Linked DNA regions of Homo sapiens: all the other regions are linked to region 2. Evidence: fine-mapped expression QTL. A gene starts in region 2. Each other region holds a variant in brackets. All regions are shown on one strand. Distances are between the middles of the regions. Region 1 holds the start of LOC124903785 (small nucleolar RNA U13). Region 2 holds the start of ADCY7 (adenylate cyclase 7). Region 3 overlaps BRD7 (bromodomain containing 7).

Evidence for each region.
Region 1: its variant is fine-mapped to the expression of ADCY7 in whole blood (TOPMed, PIP above 0.99).
Region 3: its variant is fine-mapped to the expression of ADCY7 in whole blood (TOPMed, PIP above 0.99).

The regions. Positions count from the first base shown.
Region 1 is chr16:50,351,654-50,356,653 of GRCh38, reverse strand. It overlaps BRD7 (bromodomain containing 7), which reads left to right. Exons shown (of 17, transcript NM_013263.5): 3 at 1,732-1,861; 4 at 2,172-2,229. LOC124903785 (small nucleolar RNA U13) reads left to right here and starts at 4,362; the gene lies at 4,362-4,465. The variant G/T (reference allele first, on the strand shown) is at 2,321.
Region 2 is chr16:50,264,095-50,269,849 of GRCh38, reverse strand. ADCY7 (adenylate cyclase 7) reads right to left here and starts at 3,299. Exons shown (of 26, transcript NM_001114.5): 1 at 3,170-3,299. RefSeq lists enhancers at 3,527-3,616, 3,562-4,155, 5,223-5,402.
Region 3 is chr16:50,338,162-50,343,161 of GRCh38, reverse strand. BRD7 (bromodomain containing 7) reads left to right here. Exons shown (of 17, transcript NM_013263.5): 6 at 3,076-3,186. Among named protein-coding and RNA genes, the nearest start is that of BRD7, 28 kb to the left of the region's middle. The variant G/T (reference allele first, on the strand shown) is at 2,840.

The DNA of each region.
Region 1 (5,000 bases), 87 kb before region 2:
TCTTTCCTTCTGATAGAACCACTGTACTGAATTTGGTGTATATCACATGCATGTTTTTATAATTACAAGTTCTGCATACATCTGTAAACAATGTATGCTTACACATTTTCATACATAGCTTGTAACAGTAATTGTTCTGCAACTTTTCTTCAGACATTGTTTCTGAATGTTATCCATGTTGATACAATACAATTTTAGCTCATTTACATTACCTGTTATGTAAATATGACACAATTTATTAATCTATTTTCCTTTTAATAGGCATTGGATTATTCCTATTTTTTACTATTTTAAACAATGCTGCAGTAATCTCTTACAAGTCTCCATGTAGACCATACGACAGGAAATTTCTCTGGTATATGCACAGAGAGTAGCAGTTGAGAAGTAGGTTAAAGGCTTTGCTAGCTTTGCTAGATATTGCTAATTGCTCTGCTAAGGATTGTTCCTATTCACCCAATTGCAAGGTATGAAAATCCCATTTCTCTACATTTTTATCAAAACTTGACATTTCAGACAAATGTTGCCAAAGAGAGGCGAAATGCCTTCTAGTTTTTAAATCTATAATTACCCAAGTTCTAGGGAGCTTGAGCTAGTTCTCATGTTCTCAACATTTCACATTTCTTATTCTGTGAGTTACCTGTGATATCACTTATCTATTTCTTTTTTGGATTTTTTGCCTTTTTGCATAGATTTATAGATGCTCTTCATGGAATCCTTAATGTTTTATAAGTTGTGTTTCAAGTACTTTATCTCAGTCTATCGTTAGATTTTTAACTTGGTTCATGGATTTTGTTGAGGTACCAAAATTTATCAACTTAATATCAAATTTATCAAGGTTTTCCTTTAAAATTTATTCATTTTATATCTTTTTAAGAAAGTCTTTTTCTACTCTTGGGTCTTAAAGATGCTTTTCTTTTATCTGAAGTTCTGAAGCTTTGCTTTGTACATTTAAGTCTTTATCTGGAATTCACTTTTGTGTATGGCATGAAGTAGAGCTCAAATTCTATTTTCTCTTTTCAGGTAACAGTTGTCTCAGCACCACCCTTTTGTCATTGACTTATAATGTCACCTCTGTGATATACTAAGATTATTCTATGTACATGGGTCTGTTTCTGGGCTCTGATCTCTTCTGTTGGCTTATTTGTCTGTGTGTCAGACCCACATTGTCTTATTATCACGTTATACAAATAATATCTGGTAAGACGTATCATCTTACTCTGACCTTTTTCAAAACTATTGTGTTCTTAATCGTTCACTCTTCGAGGTAAATTAATGCAATTGGCTTGTTGAATTCCATGGAAATTTTTGTTTTTAAATTTCGATTGGCATTACATCGAATGTATTGATAACTTGAGAGAGGATTGACTCTGAATTCATGAACATAGTATATCTCCTTTATTCAGGCCTTCTGTGACCTTCAGTAATGTTTCACAGTTTTTCCCAAAAGGTTTTGGGTATCTTTTATTAGATTTATTTCTATATACACTATGTTGCTTTTTTGGATAGTATTGTTTTTCTAACTGGTTATTTCTGGCATAGAGACCCCCTTTGTTTTTTCCTTCGTGAACGTATTATTCTCTCCTTTTCCAGTAGATGGCAGTAAAGTACATTGAGCTTGTTATTAAGAATATTTTCTTTACAATGATGTCTTTTTACCCCTTAAAATGATTTATGTATTTAAAGATATTGGTTCTGAAATATTTCTAAATTATCTCCCTTTGTTCCATTTAGGAGGATAAAAAGAAGCGAGATCGAGACCGGGTGGAGAATGAGGCAGAAAAAGATCTCCAGTGTCACGCCCCTGTGAGATTAGACTTGCCTCCTGAGAAGCCTCTCACAAGCTCTTTAGCCAAACAAGAAGGTTGGAATAACTCTGAATTAACTATCCTGAATGAGGAGGCTGAAATCATTATAGCTCAGGAAAATGGTGGGGTTTTAGCTTCTAAGTTGGAGCTTTGTGATTGAATTTTTAAGTTTTTTCTCTCAAACTGCATAAGAGCTTTAAATTAGCTTCAATTTTGGATTAATACTCTCAAACTTCAATATATTTTTAAGATAAATGGAATTTCTGTATGAGATATTTAATAATGGTTGTAGAAAATGATCTAGTAAATAATACTCTCTAGAATACTCCTTTTTAAAATACCCTTTTCCCTTCTTCTTTGCTTTAGAAGTAGAACAGACACCCCTTCAAGAAGCTTTGAATCAACTGATGAGACAATTGCAGAGGTAAATGTTTTTCCAATATTTTTATAACATAGAAATTAAAATGGTAGATGTGTAGGATCCAAACCACATTTGTGCCTAACTCCAAACATAC[G/T]TGATTTTAAAGTGAATGATAAATATTTTGCCTGGCAGCAGAAGTACTCCAAGAGGCTAGGCTAACTTTTAGATATTCTTTATTTGGTTTGTTTCCCTGGCAACTTGAAGGGTGTTACATAATACTTTTAATGACAAATTTCTGTCTCTAAAGTAATTTCTGATGTTAAAACTTTAAGCCAGGAATAAACAATACAGATATTTCCACTTTGCTAATAGATGGAAATACCTTCTATGTATTTGTACAATGCTTATCATGCCACAAATGTTTAGCAATTATTAAGTATGGGAGAAAAAATAAAACACCATAAATAGGAATTATGGCCTTCTTTTAAATGCAGAAATTGGTTCTAAAAATTTCAGTGCCTAGATTAAGCTACTGTTGAGTTCTTAAAAGGGAAAAGAATAACTCAATCTTTATTAAAATATTTATTTTGGGCCGGGTGTGGTGGCTCACGCCTGTAGTCCCAGCACTTTGGGAGGCCGAGGCGGGCAGATCACGAGGTCAGGAGATTGAGACCATCCTGGCTAACATGGTGAAACCCCATCTGTACTTAAAAAAAAAAAAAAAAAAATTGCCAGGCATGGTGATGGGCGCCTGTAGTCCCAGCTACTTGGGAGGCTGAGGCAGGAGAATGGTGTGAACCCAGGAGATGGAGCTTGCAGTGAGCCGAGATTGCACCACTGCACTCCAGCCTGGGCAACAGAGCAAGATTCCGTCTCAAAAAATAAATAAATAAATAAATAAAATATATTTATTTTGATATCTCTCTACTCAGAGTTTAAATTTTCAGCTCAAAGATATTTCCATTATTTGCAAAGGGTTTATGGTTGTAGATCATACATTTTTACAGTGGACTTTCTTTCATTGTATTGAACTTAAGTCAACCCAGAACACATTGTAAATAATTTTTCTCTAATGTAATCTGTATTCAATGCCTGTTCAGGTTTGCAGTTAAGATCAGAAGTTAACCGAGTATAGTAGCTCACACCTGTAATCCCAACACTTTGGGAGGCTGAGGTGGGAGGATCAGTTGAGGCCAGGAGTTTAAGACCAGCCTGGGCAACATAGTGAGACCCCATCTCTACAAAAAAATAAAAATTATCCTAGTGTGGTTGCACACACCTGTAGTCCCAGCTCCAGAGACTGAGGTGGAAGGATCACTTGAGCCCAAGAGGTTGAGGCTACAGTGAGCTGTGATAGCACCATTGCACTCCAGCCTGGGCAACAGAATGAGATCTTTTCTAAAAAAAAAAAAAAAAGAACTTACTGATCTCTCTTCTTTTTTGGTGTTTGAGAAAAATTACATCTAGTCTTTATATTTAAATAACTTGTTCATTACTTCACTACTTGTCCGAAAGGAGTGAATAGGTATTGGGTATTCCATTGCAATTTACAAGGTGTGACTGTAAAATGTCATGGCTGCCTTAGAGTTTTTCTTGCAACGTAAGGCCAGAATGTAGGTTAATGATGTCACCTTAAAAGAAATGACTTAATTAAAAGAAGACATTCAAATGGCCAACAGGTATATGAAAAAATGCTCACCATCACTAATAATCAGAGAAATGCAAGTCAAAATCACCTCACCCCAATTAGAATGCCTGTTATCAAAAGACAAAAAAAAAAAAAAAACAAAGCTGGCAAGAATGTGGTAGAGAAAGGGAAATTGTATATACTGTTGGTGGAAATGTAAATTAGTATAGCCATTATGGACAACAAGTTCCTTAAAAAATTAAAAATAGAACTACCATATGATCCAGCAATTCAGCTACTGGGTATATATCCAAAGGTAATGAAATCAGTATGTCCAGGAGATACCTGTACTCTTGTGTTAATTGCAGTGCTATTCATAGTAGCCAAGATGGAATCAGTCTAAGTGCCCATCAATGGATGAATGCATTTTTTAAAATGTGGTATGTATACACAATGGAGTATTATTCCACCATTAAAAAGAATGAAATACTATCATTTGTAACAACATGGATGAACCTAGAGGACATCATGTTAAATAAGCCAAACACAGAAGAACAAATACTGCACGATCCTTTTGTAGTTCATAAGTGTAATGATTGGGTTTTCATGTTCCTTTGTGAGATATACCGCCCTCAAACTTTGTTACAACATCAGCACATTACCCATCTGATGTGAAGACAGAAAATATGGTGAGGGCACAAATATGACATCATCTCACTCATGTGGGATCTTAAAAAGTTGATTCATAGAAGTAGAGAGTAGAACAGTGGTTACCAGAGGCAAGGGAAAGGTAGAGGTTGGTCAGCAGGTACAGAATTACAGTTAGATGGGAGGAATAAGCTCTGGTCTTCTGTTGCACAGTAAGGTGACAGCAGTCCACAACCATTTATTATATACATCAGAATAGCTAAAAGAAAGGATTTTGAATGTTCTTATTCCAAAGAAATAACAAGTGTTTGGGGTGATAAATATGCTAATTACCTTGATTTGATTATTACACCTTATACATACATACATACATACATACAAGGATACACCGAAGTATCCTTGTATATATGTATGTTAGTATATATGTGTCGAAACATCACACTGTACCCTCTAAATATGTGCAATTATTATATGTCAATTAGAAACAAAGTCTTAATGAAAAAACACTTCAGGAAGTATTTCTTAGTCTAAAGACATTGGGAATTAGAACCCAGAGCCA
Region 2 (5,755 bases):
GGGCTGCTCTGATACAGGCATCCACTGTGACCCACTCTGCATGCTCCCTCAAAGGCCTGGAACTTTCTCCAGCGGAGTTAAGCGCTGCTCTCTCCCTGGGCAGTGGGAGAGGTAGGAGAGAGGATGCTGTGTCACCTCAGTATGAACAAGTCCACATCCTCTTCCTCCAGGACAGCAGGAGGGAGGCAAGGAGCGGTGCTGAGGGTCAGGCCACCCAGCCACCTCTGTGACCCTTGCAATGACAGGGAGTGGACAAACCACCTACCTCCTGGCTAAGGCATGACCCAACCACACATCCAGGAAAGCACGTGAGACAGCCCACCCTGGCCCAGCCACGCAGAAGGCCTCGTCCTACCTCTTCTCTCCCGCAGTGGGCCCAGCGAAGTCCAGGCACAGGGCAGGGTAGGGGAGGCCCTCACAGGAGCCCAATTCCTCATCTTCCCAGTAAGGACCACCCCCACGAATCCCTCAGCACCAACCAGAGCCCCTGTTCTCAGCTTTGCCCCATCTGATCTCGCCAAAGACACAGTGTGCTGGCCCTGACTCCAGGCTCAAATGTGGCAGCAGACCACACTGTGGTGGGCACAACTGGATGCCTGAGGACCGATCTGCTGGGTTATTCAGGATAGACAGCCCCTCTGGGCCCTGTCTCCTCTGTAAACTGGAGGTGAACGGCACCTACCATATGGAGCGGTGGAGGAGGTGGGGAATGGGTCAAATCAGTAGCTATAAATTGTAGAGTGGGGTGCATGTCCCCAGTGCAACCATCGAGTCGGACTTTTGTCTCTTTTGAAAAATTTATTTATTTTGAGACAGGGTCTCATTCCGTCACCCAGGCTGGATGGAGTGCAGTGGCACAGTCATGGCTCACTACAGCCTCCAACTCCTGGGCTCAAAGGATCCTCCTGCCTTAGCCTCCCAAGTAGCTGGGACTACAGGCACACGCCACCACACCCAGCTAATTTTTGTATTTTTTGTAGAGACGGGGTTTCGCCATGTTGCCCAGGCTGGTCTCGAACCCCTGGGCTCAAGTGATCCGCCCACCTTGGCCTCCCAAAGTGCTGGGATCTTTTCTCCTTTTGAGACTCTCCTGTGGCCTGTCCAGAGGCCACACTCCAGCCCAATTTCTACTTCCTGAGCTCTCCCTACACCAACCTCCATGCCCTCAAGCAAACCTCCCAGACCTACTCCTGGCAAAGATGTTCTGCAATACCACCTTCACCCTCATCACCCGGAAAACAGCTGCTAGTAAACAGCTGCTTCTTTCATGAAAACAGCACTAGAAGGCTGGGCGTCGGGCTCATGCTTGTAATCCCAGCACTTTAGAAGGCTGAGGCGGTAAGATTGCCTGAGCTCATGAGTTCAAGGTTGCAGTGAGCTATGACCACTCCACTGCACTCCAGCATGGGTGACAGAGTGAGATCCTGTCTTAAAAAAAGAAAAGAGGCTGGGGGTGGTGGCTCACACCTATAATCCCAGCACTTTGGGAGGTCGAGGTGGATGGATCATTTGAGGTCAGGAGTTTGAGACCAGCCTGGCCACCATGGTGAAACCCCGTCTTTACTTTACTAAAAATACAAAAATTAGCCAGGTGTAGTGGTGTGGTAACTGTAGTCCCAGCTACTCAGGAGGCTGAGGGAGGAGGACGGCTTAAGCCCAGGAGGCAAAGGTTACAGTGACCCAAGAGGGTCACTACTGCACTCCAGCCTGGGCAACAGACAGAGACTCCATCTCAAAAAATAATAATAAATAAAAATAAGAAAGAAAGAAAATACCACCGGAGACGCTACCTCCACAAAGCTCACACCTGCCCTTCTGAGGGCCACAGAATCTGGAACAATCTGAGAGCCTCCCCTCCCCCACACTCTGCACCAGGAGCTGCAGGTAAACCTTGGGAACCCAGGGCCTCTGGAGGTGGGAAGACAGACAACTGGGTGGGAAGCGAAGGCTGTGCAGCAAACGCCTTCCTGAGCTGCAGCCCCCTCAGCCTCCTGCACTTCCTGCAGGGCTGGCACTTGGCACTTCCTCTCAAATTGGCTGGCTTGTCACTTTTATGTCTCCTTTGGCCTCGTCTAAGACAATAATACAGTCATGATGTCACAATGGCAATGTCCTATTTACAGATTTTTTTTTCCCCAAGACAAATACTTAGATTTTAAACATGTCCTTCCACACACAGGCTAGAACCCCCTGTGATTCCCTGGGCAGCCCGGTCCTCACTCCGAGAAACACTGGTGTTGAGTCCACCCCTCACAGCCTCCATCTGCAAGATGGTGATGCTAGTGAAGGCCCACGGTCACATAGCCCTTCCAGACACATCCAGCCCACACTGGCTGCCCGTCCAGGCCTTGGACCCAGGGCCCCTGTCGTAGGTGGCTCGGCCTGGCCCCTACCTCCAGGCCCTTGGCTTCCCCCTCCCGGCCCTCCCTTCTCCTCTCCAGCAATGGCTGTCCAGGGAGGAAGCCCCCAGCCACAGATGTCCCTGCCCTTGACCCTGATGTGATGACACAGAGAAGAGGCAACTGCCTCACCCTCTGTACATACATGTTTAGATGAATGCATAGAAAGCTCCAGAAAGACCCGCTCCAGAAAGACCCACTCCAGATGGCCCATGCGGTCCCTGGGGGATAGAGGAGAGGCATTGCAGGGAAAGGGAAACCAGTCTGCTTTTTGGAGGCATCTTGGTTTCCTGACCCTCAGGCATGCACTCCTTTCAGAGGTTTTGTTTGTTTTTTGTTTTATAATTTCATAAAATTAGTTGAATTGGCCTTCCCTTGCCAATGTTTCCTTTCATTGAGAAAAGTCATGTGTGCTTGTAAATGTAAAATTACACCCTCGAGAAGGAGTGTGGACATTTGAGAGTCTGTGGTTCCTAGAATTCCAGATGGAACGGGCCACATGTACAACATTGTGGTCACAACCGCACTTTCTTGTCAGGCTGGGAAAAGCCAGTGACAAGTCGCCTCTGGTCCCCTGTTGAAGGGCCGCCTCTCCCAGCCATCTGCCCAGTAGGCTCACGGAGCCTCCTACTCCCCCAGCCCAGACCCTGCCCAGTGCACTCCCAGGCCAGGCTGCCGGGTGAGCTGCTTCCCACCCACTGTCCAGCCCCGTCCCCTGGGGCTCAAGCCACTAGGACTGGTGACACTCCATCCCCACACCCCACTTTTACCTGGCTCTCCTCCCCGGCCCCAGCAGCCGGCCAGGGTCTGCAGGGAGGTGGCCCGGCCCCCGCCTGCCCTTCCTCAGACGCGCCCAGGCTCACCCATCCGAAGGCTCCTTCCACGCTACCTAATGAGAGTGAGTCACATCTGGGACCCACCACTTCCTGCTCCGGCAGCGGCAGCAGCGGCGGCGGCGGCAGCAAGGCTAAGGCACAGCCCACAGCCCAGCCTCTCGGGGTGTGCAGGGCCCCCTCCCCCAGCCACAGTGCTGCTCTCCGCAGCCTGGGAGCTGCCAGGCCTGGGAGCTGTCGGGCTCCAATGACTTCATGGAAATTTGAAGCTTGAAGCTGGAACAATTTTGAAAAAATAATAATAAAACAAGCACCAAAAACCTCCATTAGAAGCCCCAAGACAACTGTTCAAAGTGGGGAGCAAATGCATCCTTAGTGAGCAATTAGCAATTAGCGGCCTGGCCTGAGCCTCCTGTGGGCTCTGACGCTCACAGACAGGCCCCCCGCGCCTTCCTGGGACTCAATTTCCCTATCTATGTAGTAAGGTGGCCCCGTCCACCTCTGAGAGGGGCCCAGGAGAGGTCAAAGATCTTCCAGCCCAGCCCACTGCCTCTCCATCTCACCTACGCTCCCATGCTGGGAGCAGGGCAGGGGCAGGCCCATCCTTGGGGCTCCTATTCCAAAATCAGAGTCCCTGGAGAGCCCCCAACATCCCTGGGCACCATGAGGCTGGGAATCAAACCCCAGCACCCCTTCTGCTATGCCAGGCCTCAGTTTCCCCACTGGGATCATGGGGCGCTCAGTGGCGAGGGAGCAGATCAGGAGAGGCTAAGAGGAGAGAGTGGAGACTCCCAAAACAGAGGGGGAGGCCTCCAGCCCGCTGGCCACAGCAGCACCTGGTCCTCAGGGAGCCCTTCTGAGCATGTGACTGGCATCCTGGGATTACGAGCTCCTCAAAGCAATGGTGTACCTCCTCCACCTCCCACATCCAGGGTCAGACACCCCTCTTCTGGTCTTCTAACCCCTGCACCTTCCTCCATCACAGCACCTCTGTGCTGTGACCACTGGTTGCTGGTCTGTCTTTCCTAGGTTATATCCTTGAGGAGGGCAGAGATGGGAGGGCAGCTGTAATATCAACAGCTGTGTCCCCAGCGTCCAGCCCCAGCTGGTCACAGAGTAGACATCCCACACATACTGATCAGGAGGAACTGAACATGTTAGGTGCTGTCTCTGTGCCAGGCCCCATGCAGGGAACTAGCAGGTGATCTAAGGTCTGCCATCTGGTGGAGACAGGCATAGGACTCACACAGGGTTCCAGGCTGCTCCAGAGGCCACAGGAGGGAGTGGGAGACCTCAGGGGATCCTCCCCATCAGGGTCGCCCTCCTATCAGCAAATGTCTCCCTAGCAAATGTCCCAGAGCAGAGAAGGAACAGACATCATCATCATCAAAAGAGGGGAAAGACAAGCCACTGACTAGGAGAAAGTCACATCCTATATGACTGACAAAAGACTCCTCCCTAGCATATATAAAGATCTCCCAGGCTTGGCATGGTGGCTCATGCCTGTAATCCCAGCACTTTGGGAGGCTAAGGTGGGCGGATCACCTGATGTCAGGAGTTTGAAACCAGCCTGGCTAACATGGCAAAATCCCGTTTCTACTAAAAGCACAAAAATTAGCCAGGCGTGGTGGCATGAGCCTGTAATCCCAGCTACTTGGGAGGCTGAGGCAGGAGAATCACTTGAACCTGGGAGGCAGAGGTTGCAGTGAGCCGAGATCACACCACTGCACTCCAGCCTGGGCAACAGAGTGAGACTCTGTCTCAGAAAAAAAAAAAAAAAAAAAGACCTCCCACAAACCAATAAGAAAAAGACAAATGGCCCAATTAAAAGATGAACAAGAGACTTACACAGGTACTTCAACAAAGAGGATGCCAAAATGACCAATAAGCACATGAAAAAGATACTCAACATCATTAGCCACCAGCAAATTAAAACCATATAGAGATTCCACTGTACCACTAGAATGGCTAAAATTAAAATGAAAATACCAAGTGTTGACAAGGAGGAGAAGCAGCTCTTCACTCTCATGTACTGCTAGTGGGAATGTAAAATGGAGCCACCATGATGAAAACTGCCTGGCAGTGTGGACAAAAGCAAACCATATGCTTCCCCAATGACTCAGCAATTCAATCTCAGGTATTTACCCAAAAGAAATGAGTACATGTGTCCACAAATGACTTCTATCCAAGTGTTCAGAGAAGCTTTCATCCTAACAGTCAAACTGCAAACCCAAACATCCTGCAATGAGTAAATGGATAAACAAATTTTCATATATTCACACAACAGAAAATTACTCAGCAGTAAAAAGGAACAGATCACTGCTAACACACAACATGAATGAATATCCAAGATGGCAAGGACAGTGAAAGACCCACCCACAAAAGACACATTCAGCACGTTTCCATTTATATGAAACTTCAGAAATGATGAAACTAATCTACAGTGACAGACAGCAAGACAGCGGTTGCCTCTAGGGAGGCCGCTGATTGGAAAGGGGCACACAGGAAACTTCTGGGGGCTGA
Region 3 (5,000 bases), 74 kb before region 2:
TACTCTAAAGTAAAGAATAAATTGGCTTGTCCAGAAATACTAAAGAGAAGTTTAATTACATTTTCTAATTTGATGAAAGTTAATTGCTCTCTGAGTTCATTTTGGCTATATTTGTTGAGCATATTTTCTTCAGCTTTAAGAAGAGTATAGAAAATTTACAAGGACCTGAAAACTTATAATATATATACCTATTATAGATGAGGTTTTTCCCATTTGAGGGAGTGTCCTGGTGTGTGTTGATTCCAGGGAAAGGAACCATGTATATTAAAATTTACTATGTATTCAACCGCCACAAACTTAATTGGTTTAGATAATATCTGTTTTACCTCTACTTTGTTTTACATAACCACAGTAGTGCTCACCTGACCTATAAGGGTTAGACCCTAATTGGTTACCCTAATTAGTTATTTTCCTAAAAATAAAATAAGATAGTGTCTTTATGGCCAGGTGTGGTGGCTTACACCTGTAATCCCAGCACTTCCGGAGGCCGAGGCAGGTGGATCACAAGGTCAGGAGATCAAGACCATCCTGGGTAACACAGTGAAACCCCGTCTCTACTGAAAATACAAAAAAATTGGCTGAGTGTGGTGGCGGATGCCTGTAGTCCCAGCTACTCGGGAGGCTGAGGCCGGAGAATGGCGTGAACCCAGGAGGCAGAGCTTGCGACAGAGTGAGACTCCATCTCAAAAAAAAAAAAAAAAAAAAAGACAGTGTCTTTACTTAGTCCCTTTTTTCATCCACATATTGATAAGCAGAGATTTATGAAGAATATCAGTGTTTAGTGCTCTTTACTGTTGAGTTTATAGGTAATATTCCACTTTCTCCAAAGAATCTGAATTACATTCTCTCTTATTTCGAGAAATAGAAACTTTTCCCAACTTTTTATCTGGTGAAAATTAGGCTAAAACCGTTTATTTCAGCATATTTCTGACCTTACCATTGCTTAATGGGAAAGAATTTCACAGTTTTTTGTTTTTTGTTTTTTTTCTGCATGATTTTCCTCTGATCTTTCTCTTACAGTAAGAAGAGTAGAAGTGTGTCCCCAGAGTGTTTTTAAGCAGGTTAGGGTTTATCATAATTGAAAGGAATTGGTATCTTAGCTCTTTAGAATTTCTACGTTGCCACTTTTTTCTAGGGAAAGCTCAACGGCCTAAAGTAATATTTATTCAGTTCATTTGGCAGTTGAAGTAAAATGTGTGTGTGTGTGTGTGTGTGTGTGTGTGTGTGTGTGTGAAAAGTGTGCAGGAAGACTCAGCTTTTTGAATGACCAGTGCCATCACCCACAGTTCAGTAAAGCCCAGCACATTATGTTAAGATTTAAGGAATCTACAAATTGGCTTAATAGATCAGTCCTGTGTTCATTAGAACAATTCAGTACTCTTGCCAGTTCATAGGCCCATTATCTGGCCAATTATAGGCCAAATGGTCACTTAGTTTGAGTATATATAGTAATCTAGTATCTCCGTTCACTTGCGTCCCATCCCCCCAAATACATATTTAATTTTTTTTTTTTTTTTTTGAGACCGAGTCTCACTCTGTTGCTCAGGCTGGAGTGCAGTGGCATGATCTTGGCTCACTGCAACCTCCACGTTCAGGGTTCAAGCAATTGTTGTGCCTCAGCCTCCCAAGTAGCTGGGACTACAGGGGTGTGTCACCACACCCAGCTAATTTTTTTGTATTTTTAGTAGAGACGGGGTTTCACCATGTTGCCCTGACCAGTCTCAAACTCCTGGGCTCAAGCAGTCCACCTGCCTCGGCCTCCCAAAGTGCTAGAATTATAAGGGTGAGCCACTATGCCCAGCCTAGTAATTCTTAATGGCCTGGAAGCTTTTCCAAATATCTGTAACAAAGGTCTTTAATCTAGGGTCCTTTGGATACCATAATGAGCCTTTAGAGGGACCAAGAACCTACTAAAATTACATGAAGACTTTTGTGTTCAGCTGTGTGTGTGTGTGTGTGTGTGTGTGTGTGTGTGTGTGTGTGTACTTAAGGTCTGGTCCCATAGCTTTCATCAGATGCTTAGAGATCCAAGACCTGGCATATTTACAGTCATGGCCCAAACTGAAGATCCACATATACTTCATCCACTTTAATACCAAATTTATTGCGACCCTTCACTCAGTCTTACGTACTTGTACATAGAACTCAGTCTACTTATTTTTGTTCTATTTAAGTGTTCTAACCTGTCATCACTATTAAATAGTGGAATTTGAATTTTTTTTGTTTTTTAAACAAATTTGTAGGGGGCAGATTCTCTTTTCTTGGGTTTTTCTTTCAACTTAGTAAGGCCTTGGCATAATGAATCGCACATTTATAGATGTAAAAATTACTTAACTATGAAAGCATGCAGTGGGGTCAAGTTCTCCAGCACATAGCGGACTTGGAAATTTAAGCCAAAAAGACAGTTTTGGTAATTTGGCTACTCCAGTTACATGTTTTAACTCCTTGAGGTTGTATGGTTTATTTCACATTGGCATGGTTTTGCAACATTCTGCAAATTATGTTTAGTTTATGATAGTATCCAAACACATAAAAGTAGTGTAAATGTTTTAACATTTTTTGCTCAGTTAATGTGAATTTGGCAGGAAATACTGCGATAATTTAGGACTGCTCCGTTTTCAGTCAAGATCTGAAATAAAATGTTCAATTCCTAAATGGAAATTTAAGATGTTTGTTTTAAAGCTAGGAGTAATATTTTTTTTATTTACATGAACTACTCAGCTAAAATCATTACATATGAAATAGAAGTATTTTCTTCACATTTTTTTTATGTGCAGTAAGATTATACTGAAGAAACCCATTTAAAAGTTTCATTCTGGGATCTACAGTTTATATACAG[G/T]TACTATAAAATATTTAAGAATTTGGGAAATAATATAGCATATTTAAATACATTTAGCAGTATTTGTTTTGTTGGTGAGTCTTAAAACTTAATAAATTACTGTTAGTATTGTTTAGTAAATAAAGAAAGGGATGTTGCTTTTTAAATTTTTAGAGGACCTGTATATTTTCAACCTGGGGGTGCAGGGTAGTTTGTTTTGCATTAATGCATTTTCTCCCTTAATGTTCTTTCTGCAGGATAACTTCAAACTAATGTGTACTAATGCCATGATTTACAATAAACCAGAGACCATTTATTATAAAGCTGCAAAGAAGCTGTTGCACTCAGGAATGAAAATTCTTAGCCAGGTAAAGGAAACTCTTTGTCATAAATAATAGTTATTAAAATCTGTGTCGCTGTTTGTTGGCCATAGTAATACAGATACAATACAGTATTGATTTTATTTTATTAGCAGGTTATATTATATTAAATAAAGTAGAAAATACTAAATGAAAAAAATTTTAATAAAGAGAAGAAAATTAAGACAGGAAAATTCTTACTTGGAATCAATACAAATAAATATTGGCATTCACTTGTAATTATCTCTTAAGACATAAAACATCAGCTTGAAACATCAGCCTGAATTCCAGGATAAGACTGGCTGAATTGTGAGAACTCTGAAGAGGAAAGCTCTCTGTTTGCATTTGTAGGGGTGGAATCTAACGTTGGTCAGTCCTGTCAGAAGCACAGAATTTCTAGTAAGAAAATACAGTCATGCGCTGCATAATACTGTATATACAGACTGCATATACAGTGGTGGTTCCATAAGATTGTAATACTGTATTTTTACTGTACTTTTGTTATATTTAAATGCACACATACTTAGCATTGTGTTACAGCTGTCTGCAGTATTCAGTATGGTAACATGCTGTATAGGTTCCTAGCCTAGGAGCAGTAGGCTATATCATTTAGCCAGGTGTCTGATAGGCTATACCATCTAGGTTTGTGTGAGTGTACTCATTGATGGTCACACAACAAAATTGCCTAACAGTACATTTCTCAGAACGCGTCCCTTCATTAAGCTACATGTGACTATATACAAATGAGAGAAAATTTGAAACTGTCTCAAAACCACCTCTCCACAACAGCAGACTCTTCCTTAAAGGGTAAGAATTAGTGCATAGTAAGTCATTTGAGGTCAGAGAAGTGTGTGCGTAGGCACAGACACATCATCATCAAACTGCAGGAAAGAGCGTAAACATGAGATATTATACACAGTGGCAAAAAATTACTAGTGTCCCCAGGACGACAGTTGATAAAAGGCTTTGAAGGGTAAGCTGAGATGATCACTGTGCATCCGCTGGAGAAAATAACTCGCAAGATAAGCCATATCTTTTGAGGTTTTTCTCACCACTCTGAGTGGGAGAAACCTATGTAAGAGACTACTTTAGGGAACGAATCAAGGGTGATCCTGGCACCATACCATACCATGGCAGGCAGGCAGAAGAGAGTTTTCATTTTAGCTCTCTTCCACTAACTTGTGGACTTTGGGCAAGACATTAACTACCCTGGGACTCAGTGTTCTCATCCCTAAAGAAGGGTTTAGTCTGTGGTCTCCAAGATGATTTCTAGCATTACTGTTCTGATTCTAGATAAGAGGTAGAGTAGAGAGGATACTATGAAAAAGAACCACAAGATAGGACAGGGATTTTGCAAAGAAGAAATGAGTGGGTATAAGACACTGGTAGAAGGAGAAAGGAATCAGAGTCCAGAGCTTGAGCTCACATTCAGGGGAGTTAAAGGATGATAAAAATGAGTCGTGCATCTGCATGTGGTTTTTCGATTTTTATGGTGATTCATTTTTCTGTATTACAGTTTTACATTTAAAGAAATGCCTTGGTGTGCAGATGTCTGAGTGTCTGTATGCTTGGCTGAGAGATTCTTGGATTCACTTAACTAGAGAAAGAAAAACATGTTTGGATTGTTGATTATTCTTGCGCTCCTAATATTTAGACAACTTTGGTTCCCACCCTTTCCTAAAGACTTGGGAAACTAATGGAAGCCAGTTACCCATCTTTGACAACATTCGCAGAGGAAAGAGGAATATGAAATGTTTACCCATTCTTTGCAGGAAGACTCTCAGAATCTAGAACCATGCCATATTCCAGGTTTAAAGACATGG